Regions from separate parts of the Homo sapiens genome. Here all the other regions are linked to region 2. The links come from fine-mapping of genetic effects on gene expression. A gene starts in region 2. Each other region holds a variant in brackets. All regions are shown on one strand. Distances are from middle to middle.

The links. PIP is the estimated chance that this variant, and not a neighbour inherited with it, causes the effect. A credible set is the group of variants that fine-mapping cannot tell apart.
Region 1: its variant is the best candidate, but not a certain one, in a credible set for the expression of ADAMTS2 in subcutaneous fat (FUSION, PIP 0.61).
Region 3: its variant is the best candidate, but not a certain one, in a credible set for the expression of ADAMTS2 in lung (TOPMed, PIP 0.62).
Region 4: its variant is the best candidate, but not a certain one, in a credible set for the expression of ADAMTS2 in spleen (GTEx, PIP 0.52).

The regions. Positions count from the first base shown.
Region 1 is chr5:179,309,660-179,315,112 of GRCh38, reverse strand. The region is part of intron 2 of ADAMTS2 (ADAM metallopeptidase with thrombospondin type 1 motif 2); the gene reads left to right. Among named protein-coding and RNA genes, the nearest start is that of ADAMTS2, 33 kb to the left of the region's middle. The variant G/A (reference allele first, on the strand shown) is at 3,206.
Region 2 is chr5:179,342,872-179,348,324 of GRCh38, reverse strand. It overlaps ADAMTS2 (ADAM metallopeptidase with thrombospondin type 1 motif 2), which reads left to right and starts at 2,864. Exons shown (of 22, transcript NM_014244.5): 1 at 2,864-3,135; 2 at 4,164-4,558. The coding sequence starts at 2,997. LOC105377759 (a long non-coding RNA gene) reads left to right here. Exons shown (of 3, transcript XR_941311.3): 2 at 1,227-1,379; 3 at 1,546-1,964.
Region 3 is chr5:179,271,028-179,276,480 of GRCh38, reverse strand. ADAMTS2 (ADAM metallopeptidase with thrombospondin type 1 motif 2) reads left to right here. Exons shown (of 22, transcript NM_014244.5): 3 at 3,417-3,570. Among named protein-coding and RNA genes, the nearest start is that of ADAMTS2, 72 kb to the left of the region's middle. The variant G/C (reference allele first, on the strand shown) is at 2,403.
Region 4 is chr5:179,172,275-179,177,727 of GRCh38, reverse strand. The region is part of intron 5 of ADAMTS2 (ADAM metallopeptidase with thrombospondin type 1 motif 2); the gene reads left to right. Among named protein-coding and RNA genes, the nearest start is that of ZNF354C, 110 kb to the right of the region's middle. The variant C/T (reference allele first, on the strand shown) is at 2,962.

The DNA of each region.
Region 1 (5,453 bases), 33 kb after region 2:
TGAGTGAGGCCTGCTCCATGCAGGGGCAGGGGGAGGAGGAGGCCGGGGTGGGGCCTTGGGGATTGTGGGGGGGGTGGGTGTAGGAATCCAGTACCACTTCCAGGTTCCTTCCAGGCTTGAATAACTGGGAGAAGGGGGCGTAGCTGGCTGTGATTAGGCTCTGGGAGGGGAGTCGCTTAATGTCAGGAAAGAGAGTTACTTCTAGGTAGGCCCTGGGCTTGAGGCTCCCGGGCCATGCTAAGGGACATTCCTATGTCCCTTGCAGCTCTTGGTTGGGCCTGGCACAAAAAAGTGTGTGCCCAAGACTCCTGTCTGTAGGTGGAGGTCTGCTGGAGTAGAGGTTGGGGGCACTGGCGGGGGACAGGAGCCCCACCTGGGTGCAGGAAGGCTACAAGGGCTTGGTGGAAGAGCGTGGAAGCCCCCAGAATCAGGGGCTTGTAATTCTGGCCCGTCACCCTGTGGGACAAGCACATGGGCCTCTGCATGCTGTCTCACCTCATCTGTAAAAGGGAGACAGTCCAGTGAGGATGTGGGCCCGTGAGAGAGAGACACGGCCCGGGGGGCTGCAGAGGCAGGAGCGCTGTGGGTGGGAGGGCTGCTTCCTGGGCTCTGAGTACAGCACGGTGCATTTACTACTCTTGTCTCAAAAAGCAGGGAAAACTGAGTATTCCGGCCACGCCACGCCACGCCACGGGGTGGGGAGGAGCCTGGCCTTGCCGCTCCCTGCACTCTCCTCTGCGCTCACTTAGCTCAGAGCTGGCGGCCGCCCAGCTCCCAGTGAGACGTGGCAGCCAGGAGGCTGAGGCCCAGCCAAGCCCCAGATGGCTGGCGAGAGGTGCTTCCCCCGAGCTGAGCAAGACAAGGACAGGGCCGACCCGGTGGGAGGGGCAGGATGGGACCAGGAGCCCGGGAAATGCCAGTCCTGGCCCTGGCCCTGGCCGGTCTGTGTGCTCCCAGGCTGCGCCCAATCCGAAGCCTCCGTGTGGATGCAGAGCCTGAAGCTGGAGGTCTGGGCATAGGCAGGGGTGTGGGGTGTGTGAGGAACCCCCCCGCCCCACCATCAGGTTCTGCCTGGGAACTCCTGGTCCTGGAGCTGACACCCCTGCTCCGGCCAGGCCCTCCTCTGTCTCGGTGTGAGTGTGTGTGTGCACGAGTGTGAATGCGTGTGCGTCCCCTCTGCTGACACCCCTGCTCCGGCCAGGCCCTCCTCTGTCTCGATGTGAGTGTGTGTGTGCACGAGTGTGAATGCGTGTGCGTCCCCTCTGCTGACACCCCTGCTCCGGCCAGGCCCTCCTCTGTCTCGGTGTGAGTGTGTGTGTGCATGAGTGTGAATGCTTGTGCGTCCCCTCTGCTGACACCCCTGCTCTGGCCAGGCCCTCCTCTGTCTCGGTGTGAGTGTGTGTGTGCACGAGTGTGAATGCGTGTGCGTCCTCTCTGCTGACACCCCTGCTCCGGCCAGGCCCTCCTCTGTCTCGGTGTGAGTGTGTGTGTGCATGAGTGTGAATGCTTGTGCGTCCCCTCTGCTGACACCCCTGCTCTGGCCAGGCCCTCCTCTGTCTCGATGTGTGTGTGTGCATGAGTGTGAATGCGTGTGCGTCCCCTCTGCTGACACCCCTGCTCTGGCCAGGCCCTCCTCTGTCTCGGTGTGAGTGTGTGCATGAGTGTGAATGCGTGTGCGTCCCCTCTGCTGACACCCCTGCTCTGGCCAGGCCCTCCTCTGTCTCGGTGTGTGTGTGTGCATGAGTGTGAATGCGTGTGCGTCCCCTCTGCTGACACCCCTGCTCTGGCCAGGCCCTCCTCTGTCTCGGTGTGAGTGTGTGCATGAGTGTGAATGCGTGTGCGTCCCCTCTGCTGACACCCCTGCTCTGGCCAGGCCCTCCTCTGTCTCGGTGTGTGTGTGTGCATGAGTGTGAATGCGTGTGCGTCCCCTCTTCACAGGCCACTCCTGAGGAGGGAGCCCCGGTAAGGCTTTAGGCTGCTGGCTGGTTCTGGGGTTGCCATGAAGTCCTGAAATGCTATTCTATTGCTGTTTCTTGATGTATCGGGTTTCGATGTTGTCCATTGACTTCCTGCCCTGGAAGAGGAGGGTTTAGCTCACTGACAACACTGCTGCCCCTCCCAGCCCCATTCTTCTACCATAATTCTCTCACCACTTTTAGTCCATATCAGAGTTCCCCATTGTATTGGTTTCTGAGGCTGCCTGCAAATTACTACAAGCTTGCTGGTTTGAAACATTAGAATTGTATCCTCTCACGGTTCTGGAGGCTGAAATCAGTTTCAACAGGGCAAAACGCAGGTGGCGGCAGGGCCGCGCTCCCTCCGGAGCCTCTAGGGGAGGATGCGTCCTGGGCTCTTCCAGGTCCTCGTGGCAGCCAGCAGTGCTTGGCTTGTGGCCTCTTCGCTCTGGGCTTCAGGGCCGACATCCTCCATCTCCCTCTGCTCTGCCTGTACGTGGCCTTCTCCTCTGCCTGGCTCATCTTGCTCTGCCTTCCTCTGATAAAGAGAAGTGTGATTGCATTTAGGGCCTGTCTTAGTCCATGCAGGCTGCTATAGCCAAATACCATAAACGGAGCGGCTTAAAAGCATCGGAAGCTTATTTCTCACGGTTCTGGAAGCTGTGCATATGGTTGTGGTGAGGGTCTGCTCCCTGGTTCAAGAAGGCATCTTGTTGCATCCTCACATGCTGAAAGGGTGAGGGAGCTCTCTGGGGTCCCTCTGATCGGGGCACAAATCCCATTCGTGTGGATGGAATCTGGTGACATAATCACCTCCCAAAGGCCCCACTTCCTAATATATCACCTTGGGGGAGTAGCTTTCAACATCGGAATTTGGGGGGAATATAAACATTCTGTCTATCCCTGGGCCCACCCGGAAAATCCAGCAGTCACTCCATCTCAGGATCCTTGGACTCACCGCATCTACAAAGTTCTTTTTTGCCATGGAAGGTAACATTTATGGGTTCCAGGGATTGGGACCCGGACGTGTCTTCGGGGGCCATTTTTCAGCTGACCACTGCCATGGTCGTCTGACTGTTATATTTGCACCTCTGCAGCTTCTAACATTAGCCTGGGGCAGAGGGTCTAGAGTATGCCCTTAGCGGCACAGGGTTCCCATGCCCCTTCTCCCTCCTCCCCACTGCTGTCATTTCTACCTTCCCTTCAGCAAGGCAGAGTGTTGTTAAATGAAAAATGATTCAATGATACTT[G/A]TTAAAGCGCGGTAAGGCGGACTTTATTCAGGACCATGGAGATAGACACAGGAACCGCTAGAGTGGGCTCTTGCAGTCGGGGAGAGAGACTGGGCTCAACTCCGAATACAGCACGGGCGAGTGGGGGGTGATAGCCAAGGAGCAGGGTAGGGGCCAGGGGATGGGGAATTACTAAGAGCAACATCAGGGGTCGGGGATTCTAGCTAAACTCACCTAACATGATTCTAGCTGAAGACAGGCTGGGGTGACCAGACATCACCAGAGGGGTGATGGGGAGGACGAGCCTGACCAGATATCAAGGGTGATCAGATATGGAGAGATGGGGCATTCATGACTTAGCAGAGTTCTTGATAAACTGGATCTTACAAGGAAGTGGGCGAAGGAGAAGGTTCAGGAGCTGGACTAAAGTTTGGTCAAGCAGGAGAGTCCCTGTCAGTGTCCACTGTTCAGGTCCTTTGTTGTCATTGAGGCTTTGCTGGCAGGTGGATGTCCCTGTGATTCTTGGCATGCTGCTCACCACTGTCTGACCCTGGCCCATTGCTGTGCCTCTGAGCCAGGCGGCGCCTGCCCATGGGCTAGAGAGAGCAGAGTGGAGGGGCATGACCCTGCACAGGACAGAGCTGGACGAGGCCCTTCCAGAGAAGTGGCCAGCCAGAGGCCAGCTCCACCTGGGCCAGGAGCGCCAGGCCCTGGGGGAGAGGGATGGGGACGTGGCCTTCCTGTTCAGAGGGCGGGGGAGGCTCGGCCTCAGAGTGAACATCTGCTGAACATACGCATCCTCCCCTTATATAATGCTGTCTGGAAAAATGGTTTCCTGTTGTTGTTGAGATAGGAGTCAACGGGCCCTGCACTCGGTGGGTTGGGGGGTGGGGGGCTGGGGAGTGGAGAGGGTGGTCTTTGGCTCCAACCTGGGGTGGAAAGGGGCGGAGGTCCAGAGGACCCAGCCGGCAAGTGGGTTGGGGCAGGCAGGGGCAGGTGGGGTTGGGCACCCTGCTGAGCTGCTGTCCTGGGCCATGCCTCCCTGACCCCTGCAGTTTGGCCATGGTCTGGGGTGGTGGCCCTTTCACTGTCCCCAGGAGGACTAAGGCCCTGATGCCTCTGCGTCCCCAGGGCAGGGCAGTAGGGCCTCTACACCCACCTTTGAGGGACCCTGGGAAGGTCTAGAGCAGTGTGTCCCAGACTTCAATGTCATCAGACCACCTGGGAACTTGCCAAAATGCAGGTTTTAGTTCAGCTGGTCTGGATGGGGCCTGGATTCAGCATCTCTAACAAGCTCCCGGGGGCCCCCAGGCTGCTCCAGGCCACATTTTGCATAGCCAGGCTCTGCACCACCATCCCTCACCCCAGCCGGGATTCTAGCACCGGTGGGTGGCCCAGAGACGCCAATCAGATTCTTCTGTGGACTTGAACCTCTCCTTGTTCCTGGAAATCCTGAGATATTTAATGACCAGGGGAGCCCTCTGGGGCTCTCTAGGCCATACTGTACCCTGCAAGGCAGCCTATGGGGGGGCTTCGGAAAGGCTTGTAGATGCCTCCTGATCCTCCAGCTTGGAGCTGGGGGGCTGAGCCCCCAAAGACAACAAGACCAGTTCTCTGTCTTTCTTCACTGTGTTTCTGCCTTGTGGTATGAGCAAGGCATGCCTAGATCCCTGCCCGCTGGGAGCTGCAGCCTGGTGGGGGAGGAGGGCCGTCCACAGGCCCCCACAGCAGACAGCAGAGCATCTCAGCGCCTGAGCGCTGTGGGGACATGGGACGTGCAGGGAGCCCTGGGCAGGCGTAGTCCGGGGTGGTCTCTCCTGGAGGGTCCTGGGTGACAGGAAGGAGCAGTCAAGGCATCAACCTGGGCAGATCCACAGGACATTCAGGGGCACCCTTGTCTGTCCCCAGGGCCGCAGGCTACTCCCAAGGCCTCCCTGACTTGAACCCCAGAAGCCAGAGGGCAGGGGTGGGGCAGGGAGGACAGGAGGGACATGCAGTGGGGGCCTGCTGGGTCCAGGGTCCTGCCCTGCCCTGAGGCAAACCCAGGGTGTTTTGCCCTCAGAGCTCCTCCCCTATGCATTTTAAATAGAAGAAACTGAGGCACGGAGAGGTGACCCACCCGGTCAAGTGGCAGGGCCAGAGCCTTTTTTTTTTTTTTTTTTTTTTTTTTTGGAGACTGAGTCTTGCTGTGTTGCCCAGGCTGGAGTACAATGGCATGATCTCGGCTCACTGCAACTCCGCCTCCCAGGTTCAAGCGATTCTCCTGCCT
Region 2 (5,453 bases):
CAATAGGCAGGTGTAGGGCAACAGGGGGTGGTGAGGACTGCGGTAAGCTGGAGAGCACAGCCAGACCTGAAGACATTCAGGCTCCAGTAGAAACGAACGCACGTGGCATGTGCTCAACAACACATCCGGCGGCGTTGGCCCAGTGGCCCTTAGTTTTTGTCGTTGGGACCTAGACTGAACATGCAGAGGAGCAGAGAGCCACTGGGGACTTCTATGTCCCGTATTTTACCTGGAAGAGGAAAAGGGGGACCAGAGAAAGAGGCAAACACCAGTAAGGGGGGAGAGGCAAGATTTGAATCATGGAGGTTTGAAGAAGTAGCAAGATTTTTGTTGTTGTTCTTTGGTTGTTTTTTGTTTTTCTGTTTGTTTCTGAGTGGAGGACAAATGATCACGGGCTGGGATGTGTCTGCAAGTCTCCTCCACCTCCCTGAGGGTTTAACTGTGAAGTTAGGTGCATGTGAGCCTTGTTCATCCACCACCCTGGTGGGTGACAGTGGGGGCACTAAAGGAAGGGCCAGGCAAGGGTGCTGCTCCATCCCCAACTCATCCCTGGTGGCAGGGGCACGGGTGATGTGGGAAGAATCAGCTGCCTGGGGTTATTCAGTGTCCAGGAGACAAATTCTTTCCCCCAAAAATATCCCAAAGCAAGTATCCCAAAGTATACAAAATAATTTAGCTCTGTGAACCTGTTAGAAGATGCCATCAACTCATAAAGTCAGAGTTACTCCTTTTCAGGCCTCCTTTCATCCTTCCAATCACATCAGAACAACGACCTCTGTGCTAGTCCATCTTAAGGCTTTTGTAACACTTACTAATCAGCTTCAGCCTTCGGTATCTTTAGCAGGTCAAAGTATCTGGAATTTGATAACATTTCTCTTCTTGTTGTATTTATTTTTAGCAATTATCTTTGATTTATGGAAACATGGTGAGATGCTGGCTTTTCCATTTATAGTAGTGATTTAAAGTATCCTTTAAAAAATTGAAAAAAGTTTTAGGCGCTGTGTAAAGAAATACCCAACCATAGACACGGCAGGAAGGTGCAGAACATGCCCCTTGAAGTAGGGGCGGCTGCTGGTTGGGTTTCACTCGTGTTTCGAAGAGGATGGAAGCGCTGACAACCACAGGAGGAATGCGTCATGGGTTCCAGGACAGCAACTGGCTGGACCCAACTCTGGGCTGCCTAGCTCCCCCAGCCTTCACAATTCAACTCATGCCACCTCTTACAGGAAGTCCTCCTGGATGCCCAGCTCTGGAGTCATCTCTGTGGTATACTAGGATTCCAGTTCCAACTTTCTCTGGAACCAGTTGGGTCATCACAGGTCACGAGAGCAGATGCCTACAGAGAGTGAGGAGAGGCGGGACCTGCCACAAACTGCAAGGTAAGTGCCCATTTAATGGTTGCTAAGCAGGACTGTGGGGCTAGCGTGGCCACATCTTCCAATATCTCAAGAAAAGTTACCAATCTAAATTTCCATGTGACATCTCACCATGCCTGGGAGCTGGATCCAGCCTCGGGCACCCTTAGGTGACACAGAAAGAGTACAGCTTGCAGGTGAAGATGGCTGTCCAGCTGCGATGCTCTCACACCCAGGACCCACAATCGAAAGAACCAAGGACGTGAGATCACAGTTAGAGCCTGCTGTGTAAGTCGTGTTTCCCCCAACGACTGGGACCTCCTGGCCAGCAGGGAGAGGCCTGAGTCATCTCCGGGTCCTCTGCCCCTGGCCAAAGCAAAGACCAAAGCCCTGGCCACACAGACCTGGGGCAGGGCAAATGAGAAAATCAAAGGGGTGGGTGTTCACCCTCTGGGGAAGTGAGGCAGAAATTGGGGGTCCCAGGGCAGAGATGATCAACAGCCTGAGAGGGGGCTCTCAGGCAGGCCCTGGAGAGAGGCCGCTGAGCTCAGACAGCATGGGAGGATCAGGGCCTTGCTGGAGAGGAGGGACTGGGGAGGGGTTCCGGTTGGCAACGGGCTCTAACAGCAAACTGGCCCCAGAATGGGCCCAGGTGTCCTTGGATGCTTGGGTGGAAAAGGTAGGCAGAGCTTGGAGAGGCCATTTCAGGTTGGGGGCCGGGAGTGCAATGGCGGGAGGACAGAATGCATACGTGGGGTTGAGGACAGGTGAGGGCAGGAGCCTGACTGTGCTCATGGGCAGAGAGCCCAGGTCTGGCAGGAAGAGGCTGTGCTGAGGCTGCAGCGGAGGGATGGGAAGGCAGATGGGGGACAGGGGACAGGGACTTCAGAGGAAGAGGAACTGGGGACTGAAGGAGCCTTGCCTCTCTCAGTAAGGGCAAAAGTTGATCTTTGGGGTCGCGCCCTGGGTGTACCCTCCTAACAGCATCTTCTGGCCTTTGCGGCCTCTATTTGGGCATTCGGCCTGGCTCAGACCTTGGACCCAGTAGTCAGTCCCCCCTCCCCTTTCATTCCCTCACCCTGTCCTGCCCCAGAGCACAGAGACAGGGGGATGCACCCCTTGAATTCCAGGGCTGATGGGTGGGACCCGGCACCCCAAGGGCTCTCTAGGTGGGGACGTTCGGCCGGCGCCGCTCCTCGGAGGTTGTGCCCCTGGGGTGGCTGGCGGCGGGGCTCCCCCGGCCCGGCCCGCGGCGCTTCTCTGCCGCCGCCTCGGGGTGTCTCTGCTTCGCTGCGAGCCCGGCACCGCGGCGACGGCGGCGCGAAGAGGGAAGCGGGCGGCGGCGGCGGCCGCGCCAAGATGCGCCGGGTCACCGCAGGCTGAGGCGCCCGCCGTCCCCGCCCTCCCCCTCGCTCGCCTCCCTCCCTCCCGCCTGCCTCCCTCGCTCGCTCGCTCCTTCCCTCTCCCCGCCTTCCCTCCGCGCTCCCCCGCCCGCCCCTCCGCGCCTCGCCTCCTCCGCCCCGCGCCCTGCGGTGCTGCAGCTGCGGGCGGCTCCAGCTGCCCCCAGATGTGGGCTGGGCGGCTCGCGGGGAACTTTCGCGCCGGCTGCGAGTGCGGGGCCCCGGCTGCAGTCCGGCTGCCATGGATCCGCCGGCGGGAGCCGCTCGCCGCCTGCTCTGCCCCGCGCTGCTGCTGCTGCTGCTGCTGCTGCCGCCGCCGCTCCTGCCGCCGCCGCCGCCGCCCGCGAACGCCAGGCTCGCCGCCGCCGCCGACCCCCCAGGTAGGTGCGGCCCGGCCCCTACTCCCCGGGACCCCCGCCGGCCTGGCCCTGTCCCGCGTGCCCCGCCGCCCCCTCCCCAGGCGTCGTCCAGCCTGACTTGGGCAAACTCCGCGCGCCCCGCCCGGGGCCAAGTTGGCCAACTTCGGGGCCGGGTTGGTCGCGCAGGGGGCGCCCCGCACCGCCCCCGAGCGCCTTGGGCCGGGGGAGCCTCGGAGCACTGGCGGCTCCTGAGTCGCGGAGGGTGGGGACGGAGGGCCGGGAAAAGCCCCGCGGCCAAGAGCGCAGAGTCAGCCCCAGCGGGTCCGAGGGGGGAGCCAGGGCGAGGCGGCGCCGGGGCTCGCGTCCGGGGACGCTCCGGAGGAGCCGGCTGCCGAGCGCGTAGCCTTGGGCCCTAAGGATTGGTTGGGGCGCCCCGCAGGGAATCCCCGGAGATCGGAGGGACCCTGTTCCACCCCTCCCAGTCCTCGGGCGCTCGGGGAGACGGGGCCGGCAGCGGGCTGAGCGGGAGCTGGACAGGCAGGACAGGCCGCTCGTGCTCGGGGAAGCCGAGACTCCGCCGCTCCGGAGGCTGGCGGTGAGGGCACTCGGGCGGCAGGGGCCCGCCGAGGGGTCGTGGCACACGGGTAAGGGGGCCAACCCGGAATGGCTTCCGAGCAGCTCCACGTCCTGCCAAGGACGGTAGGTGCAAGGGTCGGGGGACTCTCTGACGGGGTCGTCCCTTCGGGCACGGGGAGGTTCCCACCGAGCCCCAACCCTGAACGGGGCAGGGGGCAGAGCTCTTGGCAGGCAAGGTCTCCGGAGGAGGGAACGGCTGGGGAGTGGCGGAGCCCCGGAGTGGTGGCCCTGTTAACGCCCCTTCCCGGTTGCAGGAAAGCCGGGGAGGTGCAGGCTGGCTTCTGGGGTCGCCTGGCGGAATGCCCCTTCCCTTCGCAGTGGGGCGGGGTCTGGGGGGGCGTGGCTTGCCGGCGGGTCTCTGAGGCACTGGGGCTCCGTGGTCTCCGCCGATCTAACGCCCCTTCCCGTTGCAGGCGGGCCCCTGGGGCACGGAGCGGAGCGCATCCTGGCGGTGCCCGTGCGCACTGACGCCCAGGGCCGCTTGGTGTCCCACGTGGTGTCGGCAGCTACGTCCAGAGCAGGGGTACGAGCCCGCAGGGCCGCCCCGGTCCGGACCCCGAGCTTCCCCGGAGGCAACGAGGAGGAGCCTGGCAGTCACCTCTTCTACAATGTCACGGTCTTTGGCCGAGACCTGCACCTGCGGCTGCGGCCCAACGCCCGCCTCGTGGCGCCCGGGGCCACTATGGAGTGGCAGGGCGAGAAGGGCACCACCCGCGTGGAGCCCCTGCTCGGGAGCTGTCTCTACGTCGGAGACGTGGCCGGCCTAGCCGAAGCCTCCTCTGTGGCGCTCAGCAACTGCGATGGGCTGGTGAGTACGCACTTCTCTAGCTCCTTTCTCTCCGCTGCTCTCGCCTGGGTTTTGGAAAAGGGTTACCTGGGAGTCCCTTGGGAGGGCAAGGCCTGCGCTGAGGACTTTCCGCGCCCTTCCCGTGCTTTAGTGAGCCTCGTGCTCCAACTGAAGGGCTTGGCTGGAAAGCAGGTTGTTTTGACTGGTCTGAGCAGGGGGCCATTTATGCATGGGGAGCGCCCGGGTCTCCAAAAGGCTCAGCAGGCAGGAGCGTGCGCCTCTCTCTTTTGCCTGCCTGAACAGGTCTCTGGCTTGCATCCGGGGGTGGGTCCGTGTATGTGTGTGTACCTTTGTGAGTGTGTGCACATGTGTTGTGGAACGTTGGTGTGTACCTGCATCTGGGTGCCCGTGCACCTGTGTGAACATGTGCGTGTGCCAGTGTCTCTTGTGCACGTATGTGTCTGGGTTTCTGCACATCAGTGTGTTGAGCATCTGTTGAGTTTGTGTCCGTCCTTGTGCATACTGGCGTGATATGTGTGTGGTGGACTTATGGGCTGGCAGTCAGTCTTCCTGTTTCCTTGCGTGCGGGTAATACCAGCCCAGGGAGCTGGCAGTGATGCTGAAATGCCCAGTTAGCCCTCTGCCCCTTGGCTGACCGGGAATCATTGGTTTTTCTGCTGTGGTTTCCTGTTGAACTCCAGCTGGTTCTTTGAAAAGTTGGTTTTCTCTATTTTGAGCTGAGGGGTGCATTTGGAAATGAAGGCTCTAGTGCCCATGAGCTGCTCGATCTTTTGGGGGCAGCGCCTGAAGGACAAGAGAGAGGCTAGGGGATCCCTTTTGAGACTGCCTGCGCCTCTCTAGTCCTGTGACTGGAGCTCTGGGAAGCTCTGCTTCCTGGAGAGGGCAGGAGGGACCG
Region 3 (5,453 bases), 72 kb after region 2:
TTGACACCTTGCCTGAGGTCACCTGGCCAGATAGAAAGGGTGCCAGGAAGTCAGAACTTCACGCTCCAGGACAGCTTGCCCGCTGCCGCCCCCCAGGGTTAATTCCTGCACTTCATCCAATGAGTTTCAGTCATAAGATGGATTTGAGGCACCAGCCTTCTCCACACCACGCACCGGGACCATCAGTGCTGGACCCTCCCAACTCCTGCACTGGTAAACACACTGCCCCTGTGCCAGTGGACAGGCCTGGCTGTGTTCTTCCCGCCTGCCTGCTCGGTGCCTCCCTTGGGGGACGTGGCCTGCAGCTTTGGGGTCATCGGTTCGCTCATTCCACAGGCATCTGCTGAGTCTTCGCCAGGCCTGGTTGAGCCCTGAGACCCAGGGATGAGTCAGAAGCGTGGGGCCTGCAGGGTTCCCACCCCCTCTTCCGCTCTCCTCCCACAGCCCTGCTGACCTCCTTCTCCGACCTCGGTCTTGCCCTGGTAACTCTGGTTACCACTGCCTCCTAGGCCTCTTCCCCAGAAGCCCAGGATGCCTGAGCCCAGAGGGTCCTGCGCCCCTTGCCCTTCTTCTCATGCCCCTCGGAGAATGGCACCCACTTTGCCGGCCACCCACCAGGACCCTGAATTACTTTTCTGCGGCTGCTGTAAGGAACCACTTAAAACAGCAGGAATTCGTTCTCTCACAGTTCTGAGGCCGGACGTCCGAAGTCGGTATAACCTGACCCAAATCCAGGCATCGGCAGGGCTGCGCTCCCTCTGGAGACTCTGGGGGAGGACACTTTCTGGCCTCTGCCAGCTCCTGGGGGCTGCCAGCATTCCTTGGCTTGAGGCCACATCGCTCCAATCTCCAAAGCTGGCATCTGGCATCCTCCCTGTCTGCCCATGGCCTCGTCCTCTGCGCATCTGCCTAATCCCCCTCCACTCCCCGGCATAAGGAAGTGGGCAAGGACTGCATTCAGGGCCCAGCCAGCCCCAGAGCTGACCTGATCACACCCGCAGAGTCTCTTTCCACCATGTCCACTACCCTCACAGCTGCCAGGGATGGGGGCCTGGGTAACTTTGGGGGCCGGTTCTTCAGCCACAGACCTGGAAGCCCACCAGGTGCTTCCTCCTCCCTCCCATCTCAGCCGGCTCTACCCTACCACGTCCTGTCCATTTCGCTCCTCACCTCCTTCATACCTGCCACTCGTCCTTGTCTCTCATGCTCCCGTCTGGACCATTACCCCTCTCCCAGGTGCCTGTAACACCTTCTCCCCAGGACCCCAGACCCATTTTTGTTCCGCAGCCCATTCCCCCTGCCGCAGCCACCATGCTTCTGAACTGGAATCAGATCAAGGCTCCCCCCAGAAGCCCTGGGCTGCCTACAATCTCCCTCACCAGCCCCCTGAGTGATGGGCCACCGGGCACCGTGCCCTTGATGCTCCTGTCCACCCACCTGGTCAGCTCTTCCCACCAGCTGTGCTCCGTCCACCTCCCCGGCCATGGCATGTGCGGTTTCCCCCATATGGAGCACTGGTCCTCTCTCTGACTCTTTGCCTGGCCAGCACAAAGGGATTGGGTGGGTTTGGGTAGATGTCACCTCCTGCCGGAGGCATCCTTCATTCTGGAGCCAGGCCTGATGCTGGGCTCTGTGTTCCTCCAGGCCCTGCACCTCCACCAGCCCCTGCCTGGCACATCAGCTTCCCGAGGGCCCAGGCTGAGTGCGCCGGGAGGCATCTCCAGCCTCCCTCGCTACACTTGAGGCTAGGGGCAGCCGCCCAGCAGGCCCTGGGGGGCACTGACTGCATCTCGGTCTGCAGAGGCTCCCAGCCAGCAACAGGATGGGGCTCACCGAGCACCTGGGGTCAGGGAGAAGGAGGGGCAGCCCGTGCGCCACCGTGCCCCCCCACAACCAAGATGATGATATGGCAGAGGCCATCATGAGGTTACTTTGGGGGGGGTGTGGTTTCCGCACATCCAGATGGCAGGTGCCGGGGGCTGCCCACCAGAGGGCACACTCCTAACTGGACAGGGGACCCCGGCCAGCGCCAGCTAAGCTGGAGTGTCGATGGGTGCTGGAAATGCCAGCTTTTCTGATTTTCAAGAGAGTCTGGAAATCTGGTCGTTTATGTGAACTCTCCTGTTTCTTAAGTTTGGCAACAAATTCAAGCTTTTAAAATCCCCTGCATGGGTCATAAGCTTGTGATCTGAAGGAAACACTCTGAAGGCTGGACACAGTGTGCACTTCCAGTGTGAGACCTTGGTTTATGGATAATGGACCAGAAGATAAAAGTGTAGGAGCTGGAGTTGTCATGGGATGGGTGGACCTGATGGTGCCAGCAGGCTGGATGGCAGGGTATGGCAGGGGAGGGCAGGGTATGGCAGGGGAGGGCAGGCTGGATGGCAGGGGAGGGCAGGAGA[G/C]GTGAGGGGGTCTGAATCAGGCCTCGAAGGGGGAACACAGGTTTACCAGATGGCCGAGCTGGGGATGGGGTGGTGGGGTGGGAGAATGGGGATTCCTGAGTTGGCAGCATGGGGTTCAGGGGCTGGGTGGCTCGGCAGGGTGCACCCAGCCCAGTGAGAAGCATGGGGTGGTGCAAGCCGCGGTCTGGGAGGGTGGGGCAGGCCAAGAGCCTGAATGCCAGCATATAGAGCAGCCTGAGTCCCAACGGAAATGAGGACCCAGCGAGGAGTTTGTAGTCAGGGAGGGTGCTGGCTGGCCTAGGGGGTCAGGGGCAGCAGTTCAGCTGCCTGTAGAGTCTGGGCTGGTGGCTGACACAGAGAGCAGGAGAGACAGTTGGGGGGCAGTAGGGACTGGAGCCAGTTGCAGGGGCATGTGTTCCATCCAAGACCCGCTGTGGTCAGGGCCTGCGTTTCCAAGGAAAGCTGGGATTCCATGTTCAAGACATGAAATCTCATCATTCTGAGTGTTAGCTTCAGAGCTTTAAAAATATTGTTTGGCCCAGATGGAACATGTGTGTGGGCAGATTCAATCCCCGGCTGGCTGTTTTGACCTTTGTCTTGGACTCTGGGCTCCTGGGAGTGGGGGCAGCACTTGGCCCATATTGATGCACTTTGGTGGATGCCCTCCTGGGGACACGCACAGGCCCACAGCTGCCCTTGAATGTCTCCCTGCTTCTCTGGACGGTTTTGACTTTATAAACACAGTAACTTTTCTGAAAGCAGACAGGGTTGGTGTATAGGGGTGGAGATGACCCAGACAGAGGCCCCTTTCCTAGACAGGGTGGGCGGCGGGGGGCGGCCTCTGGGACCACATGTTCATACCCTCCGGCCAGCCCAGGGTTCAAGCTGAGCACCAGCTGGGGTGCTGGGCAGGGTCTTCAGGTGGGAGGTACTCCCTGAGGGGGTCTCCTCGCTGTTCCCCTTCCTTGGTCTTTTGTGTGCTGGAAATCTGATCCTGTTGTCTTTGTCCCGCAGGCTGGTCTGATCCGGATGGAGGAGGAGGAGTTCTTCATCGAACCCTTGGAGAAGGGGCTGGCGGCGCAGGAGGCTGAGCAAGGCCGTGTGCATGTGGTGTATCGCCGGCCACCCACGTCCCCTCCTCTCGGGGGGCCACAGGCCCTGGACACAGGTGAGGCTACTGCAGGTGGGCAGGCTGTGTGGAGAGCCCTCTGAGGCCCTGGTCCCCAGGGGAGCATCCCAGAGACTCAGGCAGCTCTCCACAGACCAGCTTGGCTGCTGAGGCTGAGCCCCGGTCTCAGTGGCTCAGAAATGGGCCAGCTGCCTGGCTGACGGCAGGGCGTAGCAGGGCTGCTGGGGCTGGGGCCTCTGTTCTGGGTGCATGTGGGTGACAAGCAGCCCAGACACCTCTGCCTTCATGTCTGGGGCCTCCATGGTGGACTATGAAGGCTGTCCAAGGGCCCATCTTCTGTTGCCTAAAGGCAAGCAAGTGTCGTGGAGCGGGGCGGGGGCCCCCGGCCAGGCCTGAGTCCAGTGCCTGCGTCTCTGAGTCTGTGCCTGTGAAGAGGCCTCCAGAGCCCCAGACAGCGCCTCTCCTGCTCTGTGCTGCCATGGTCCCTGGGAGGGTGCCTGTGGTAGGTCCCAACCCTCACCTGGCTGCTCAGGGAGAAAGGCCCTGCATGCTCTTTCTGGATCCCTGGAGGCATGTGCCCTACAAGGACTCTGGAGGTGCTCCCAGCAGCCTCAGCAGTCTCTGCACAGACTCATGGGCGTCTGTCTTTTTCAACTCAGAACCCACGTGTGCCCTGGGCCCAGAAACGTGAAAGGAGCTGCCAGGCGGCCATGGTGACAGTCCATGACTGTCGCCTCAGATCTGGCCTCACTGTGCCAGCCCACACCTCCCAGCATCCCCCAGTCTCTGGTCCTGGATTGTGGTGAAGCCAGGGTTGGTGTCTGATGTGGTTCTGCAGGCCCATAGTTCTCAGGGTCCCCCGTGTGGTCAGGGACTCCTGGCCTGTGCTTGGCTCTTGCTGGGAGAGTGGGAAGCTGCGAGCTCAGCCCTCAGCCTCTGGTCAGGACCCCTGGGTGAGGAGAGTCTGGAGTCTGGGGCCCAGGATCGGGCACACCTGCACGTTCACAGCGAGTGCTCCAGGGGCCTGGGCTGGGCCAGCCCCCGTGCTGTGATTTACTAAGGTACTCCCGTCACTCCATAGCAGCCCCGCCTCATTTACTGTAGGTCTGTCTGACTTCCTAGCTTGACAGAAAAATTGGGTACAGCCTGGCAGGCATACTTCTAATTTCATGAAACGGCATCAGATACCTTTGCAAAGGAATTGTTCCATCAGGAAGCCCAATGTACTCTGGAGCCAATCAGTGCAACCGGTGGCCCCTTGTTCCTTGGTGACAAATCAGCGTCTGCTATGCTGCAGACAGCCGGGCCACTGGGTACTGCCTGCCCAGCCTTTTCCAGCTGTGGTCTCAGCCTCGACTTATCCCCACCCTTGGACTATTTTGCAGGGAAGGAAGGAGGAGTAATCTAGGAGGGCCAGCGTGGAAGGGGCTGAGCGAGTGCTCCAGACCCGGGGGCAGGGCCCCAGCTTTGCTCCTTGCTAGCTAGCTGCTGTCGGGCAAGCCCAGTGGCATTAGCAACCCCTGTGTCCCCGAGAGCTCAGGGGCTGGTCACTTGTGCTGTGGGCTTGGTGCTTCTGGCTGGCCTCTCCTGGAAGATTCAGGGTGGTTCTGGGGGCCTCTGCTCAGGCGAGGTGAGCTGGCCACGTGCCCTTGGCCATGTCTCTGATCCCAGATTCCATATGGTGCTTGTCTTCCTGAACATGGCAGCCCTTCCCCCACAGCCTGGCCGGCCTTGCCTTATTTTCTGGGCTTCTGCTGGTGTTTGGCATCTTCTGCTGAATCCTCCCTCCACCCCCACCCCCAATCCACATATCTTTAATGAGAACTTGAAATTCAGAACACAGGAAAGGAATTTCAATCTCAGAATAAGCCCAGAAACCATTGGCCTTAGAAGACGCTGGGTGAGGCCAGCTGCCAGGTCAG
Region 4 (5,453 bases), 170 kb after region 2:
TGTGATCACAGTCAGAACATTTGCAGAAGAGAGTCAAACCCTGAAGGTGAGAATTTGAGGATCTCTATGCCAGGGACACGGAGATCCTGGGGAAATTGAGGATTTCCTGGGATGTGAATATTTCAAAGCTGACTCCAAAAAATGGAGAATATGCCATAAGTCCCATAACCATGGAGGGAACTCAAGTTCTTCACCTTTTCCAAAGTTTTGCCAGTGCATTCATACTCATTTGCAAGCATTTATCAGGCAAGACTAATACAATACCCTGTAAACTCATGTATTCTGAAATCTACCCAATGTGTCTTTCGTAGTCAATGGGACCCTTATACCCAAAGATGCCAAAGGTAGCCCGTCAGGACAAAGTACAGACCTGTCTCACTTCTAAAAATAGAAGTAAAAATCCCAAGGCATTAAGAGTTTAATTGAATAATGTATAAAGAGAAACTTCTACCGTGATCATCTAGGGCTTATCCTAGGAATGTGGAGATTGTTTAATATCAGGAAATCTATTCATACAGTTCATCACATCAGTTTCCAAATGACAAAACTCATCCTCTAACAAATACTGTTTGAAGGGCTTCTGTGTGGGAAGTGCTGTGCTGGGAATATTCACTGGCATAGTCTCTGTCCTCAGGGGACCGCTTCCAGAAGGCAGATCTAGACAAGGAAACAATTGTACCAGGGCTCAGGGCTGGATGGAGGAGACGCGGGTCAGGCAGTCTTTCCTTACAAGGTCAGGAAAAGCAACGGGAGGAAGTGACCGTTCCACCCACACCTGAAGATGGTCCAGTGAAGTCACCAGCATAGAGATGCTCTGAGTTCATAGGCTGGGAGGGGAGGGAGGGCAGCTGAACCCAGAGGGACGAGCACAGGGACAGGAACAGCAGACCCAATGCCAAAGACGTCGGAAGGAGCCGATCGCAAGGAGCAGAGCAGACCTGCGTCTCCCGCCAAGGGGTTTGGCTTGCCCATGAGGGCAGCTTTAAGCAGTGACACGATCCCATGTGCATTTCTAAGAAGATCACTGGCTCCTGTGTGCAGAAGGGGCAGGTGGGAGCAGTGGCTTAGGAGACAGTCACTGCCATCAAATGGGGGATGCTGGCAGCTGGACTGGGACCAGGCCTGGGTCCAGGGATACAGACAGGAGGACAGAGGAGGCCACTTCGAGAGGATGTGGCACTAGGTGGGTGAAGGCGGAGAGACTCTCAGCTGGGTAGATGATGGTATCAACCCCTGAGATTGGGGAGCACAGGAGGGAAGCTGAAGAGGTCAGCTGAGATGTGCAGTTAGAGGTACCTGGTGCCATCCCAGCGGAGGAGGCCAAGAAGATGTGGATGTGGGTCTGGAGCCCTGCGGGGTCTGGAGCTGGGGGTAGCAGAAGCAACTGCAGGCATGAGGAGCTTGCTGCCTAGGGGGAGCCTGGGAGAGAGGCCTCAGGGCTCCAGTGTTGAAGCCTCTGGCAGGGCAAGGGCGTGACGGCCCCGTAGCCCCTCACAGGGCACTCCTCCTTTTCCAGATCCCCAGAAAACTAGTAACAGAGGGCAACAGGACAACCAAGATTGTATTTAAAGGCGGAAAAAGAAGCACATTTCCCTAAAAGTGTTCTGCACAGCGAATTCTTAGGATATGAGTAGATGTTACAGAGGACTATAGAGGGGTCCCAAGGTCAAAGAAGTCTGGAAAATGCTGGTCAAACAAAGGAAAATGGGCATTCCTGGGGGTGAAATTTCCCGGAGACTTTCCTGTGGAGCTGTGCATGGTGTACCTCCGAGAGTCCGAGCAGTACAGGTGGTCTCTGAAAACTTTCTCCACGGAAGCTTCTTGCTCAGCAGATCCGCAGCCTGCTGAACCTGCTCTGGGGAGCACTGCCCTGGAGATAGTCTTGGAAACAAACAAACAAAAAAGACCCATAAACTAGTTACTGTGGTTCTGAAAATCCTAGATACTTGTATGTGACATGAAACTAGTATTGGAAAAGAGCAGAGACAAATTCTCATTGTTTGCTGTTAATCATGTGTCGGGAAAACCTAAAAGAATCCACGGTACAACTTGTAGAGTTAGGAGAGGAGTCTGGTGATGTGGCCAAATATCAGACCATTGTTTAAAAAATCAGTAGCTTCTGTGTGAACCAAAAACAACAGCCTTGGTAGTGGGGAAAACAGGGAGAGAAAATTTCCATTATGGTAGTAACCAAAAATGTAGAATACCTGGAATAGTCCTGACAAGACAATGGACCCATTGGAAGGAAATTGTACCTGATTAATGATAGGAAGAAAGTGATCACAAATGAAGACACAAATGCTGTCCTCATGGGAAGCTGGGTATAATCGAGAGGTTGGCCTTTCCCAGATTCATAGTTGGAAATGTTATGAAGTGATTCTAAGCACCATCTAGGAACACGAACGGTCAAGAATGGCTGAGACAGCTGCGGAACCCAAGCAAGGAAGAGACATCCTCCAAAGGAACATGAACGGTCAAGCATGGCTGAGACAGCTGCGGAACCCAAGCAAGGAAGAGACTTCCTCCAAAGCAACATGGACGGTCAAGAATGGCTGAGACAGCTGCGGAACCCAAGCAAGGAAGAGACTTCCTCCAAAGGAACATGAACAGTCAAGAATGGCTGAGACAGCTGCGGAACCCAAGCAAGGAAGAGACTTCCTCCAAAGGAACATGAACGGTCAAGAATGGCTGAGACAGCTGCGGAACCCAAGCAAGGAAGAGACTTCCTCCAAAGGAACATGAACGGTCAAGAATGGCTGAGACAGCTGCGGAGCCCAAGCAAGGAAGAGACTTCCTCCAAAGGAACATGAATGGTCAAGAATGGCTGAGACAGCTGCGGAACCCAAGCAAGGAAGAGACTTCCTCCAAAGGAACATGAATGGTCAAGAATGGCTGAGACAGCTGCGGAACCCAAGCAAGGAAGAGACTTCCTCCAAAGGAACATGAACGGTCAAGAATGGC[C/T]GAGACAGCTGTGGGACCCAAGCAAGTAAGAGACTTCCTCCAAACATCTTGTAAAGTGAAGATAATTAAAATAGTGCCATATGTGCATAAACTTTCATAGACAGTTCAGTTGAATAAAATAGTTGAAAATACCCCTCTTACAAATAACCTACCGTGATAAACACAGAATGCTTATTGTGTTATAAATAAATATATAACATAAATTTAATAAATAGGAAATTAAATTATCATGTGACAAATATAAGCCAATACAACATTCAACTATTTAAATCACACAAATCAAGAAGAAAATATTGGTTGTCAAGAGCTTTCTAAGCATAAATCCAATTGAAGGAATTGTAAAGGGGAATATGGATATATTTGGATAAGTATAATACCAAACTTCTGTCAAAAAACACAATGAAAAGGCAAATGACAAGCAGGAAAAACATTTGCAATGTGATAAATATATCTTAATATATAAAACCTCCTCTAAATCATAAGGAAACAAAATTGTCAATGGAAGGAAACAAAGAAAAAAATCCAAGTGGCTAAGAGAAAGCCCATATGGAAAAATATCTAACTCTACTGTTAAAGAAATAAATAATACACCATTTATAAAGCATCAACCCTGTTAAGATGAAGAGGGATTTATGGCTGGGTGAATGAAGCAGGCACACTTTGAGTATGAGTACAGATATTCTAAGGAAATGTAGCAATATTTATCACTGCCCTTAAAAATGTTCTTTTTTTCTTTCTTTTTTTTTTTTTTTTTGAGATGGAGTCTTGCTCTGTTGCCCAGGCTGGAGTGCAGTGGCGCGACCTCAGCTCACTGCAACCTCTGCCACCTGGGTTCAAGTGATTCTCCTGCCTCAGCCTCCCAAGTAGCTGGGATTACAGGCACCTGCCACCACACCCAGCTAATTTTTTGTATTTTTAGTAGAGATGGGGTTTCACCAGGTTGGCCAGGCTGGTCTTGAACTCCTGACCTCAGGTGATCCGCCTCGGCCTCCCAAAGTGCTGGGGTTATGGGGCGCGAGCCACCGCATTTGGCCTTTAAAATGTTCTTGATGTTTGCCCCCAGACATTCATTTCTGTGACCCCAGACATTCATTTCTACAACTCTGTTCCAAAGCAGTGATCCCAGCTGTGGGCCAAGTTTTAGGAACAAGACAAGGGTCATGGCATTATCTCTCATGTGAACAACAGCAAACAACCTATATTGTCCAATAATAGTGGTCTAGTTAAGTAATGATAAACCTATGTGGTAGAGTATTAGGCTGCCACAAAATTGCATTTTCGAAACATGTTTAATGGCATTGGGAAATGGTTACAGTCTAAAGCTGTTTGTTGTTTGAAAAGCAGGATCTCAGTTTTCCGTATGATCTCAATTTGGTGTACAAATATATTTACCAAAAAGACTGGAAGGAACACATCAAATGTGAACAGGATTTCTCTGTGGGCAGTAGGCTAATTAATTTTCATTTTCTTCTTTGTACTTTACTGAATTTTTTAAATTCAATATGATGAGCATGGTTTTTATTATTATTATTATTATTATTATTATTATTATTAAGAGATGGGGTCTAGCTCTGTTGCCCAGACTAGAGTGGAGTGGTGTGATCATAACTCACTGCAGCCTCCATCTCTTGGGCTCAAGGGATCCTCTCATCTCGGCCTCCCAAGTAGCTTGGACTACAGGCACGCACCACCACACTCGACTAATTTTTTTTTCTTTTTTTTTTTGTAGAGACAGGGTCTCACTCTGTTGCCCAGGCTGGTCTTGAACTCCCAGGCTCAAATGATTCTCCTGCCTCTGCCTCCCATAGCACTGGGATTACAGGTGTGAGCAGCTGAGCCTGGACCAGCATGTTTCTTTTATAAACAAAACACTGCATTTTAAATTTGTGAAATTTAAATTTTTTAAATGATTTTTTAAAAAATCATTTAAAAATGGTAGGATCCAAATGATGCCGTTTGACTGAATTCAGCACTCTGGAGAAAGGTCTCCGGTGGCATGCCACAGGGCTCTGTCACGCTCAGTCCTTTATTTCTGATTTCAATGAAGACATCAAAGAGAATTCATGCTTTCCCTTGGCACGTCATCTCTGCAGTGGGCTGGGGAGGAGTAATGAGGTTTCTGTGTTCCACCCTATGGGCGCTAGCTCACGCTTCCTGTGGCTGGGGCAGGGGGTCCACCTGCAGCGGGTCCACCTGAAGGAAATGGGAAATCTTGGAGTGAGGACGCAGGCTGCCATAGGTACGTGGTCTCCCCTGCATGAGAAGCCCACGCCCCTGGGTTAGCAGGCACCACCCTCCTGGCCAGGGCCTCCTTGGCCCCTGCCCCTCATGCGCCTTGCCTGCAGAAGTTCTGCTTTGCTGGGACCCCCACCCCTCATGCACCTGCAGAAGCTCTGCTTCACTGGGGCCATGCTGGGGCCCCACTTCCACTTTTGGCAGAGTTGGGAATGGGGCAGTGGGCAGGGGACCGGTTGTCAGGTGCAGCCTGCTCT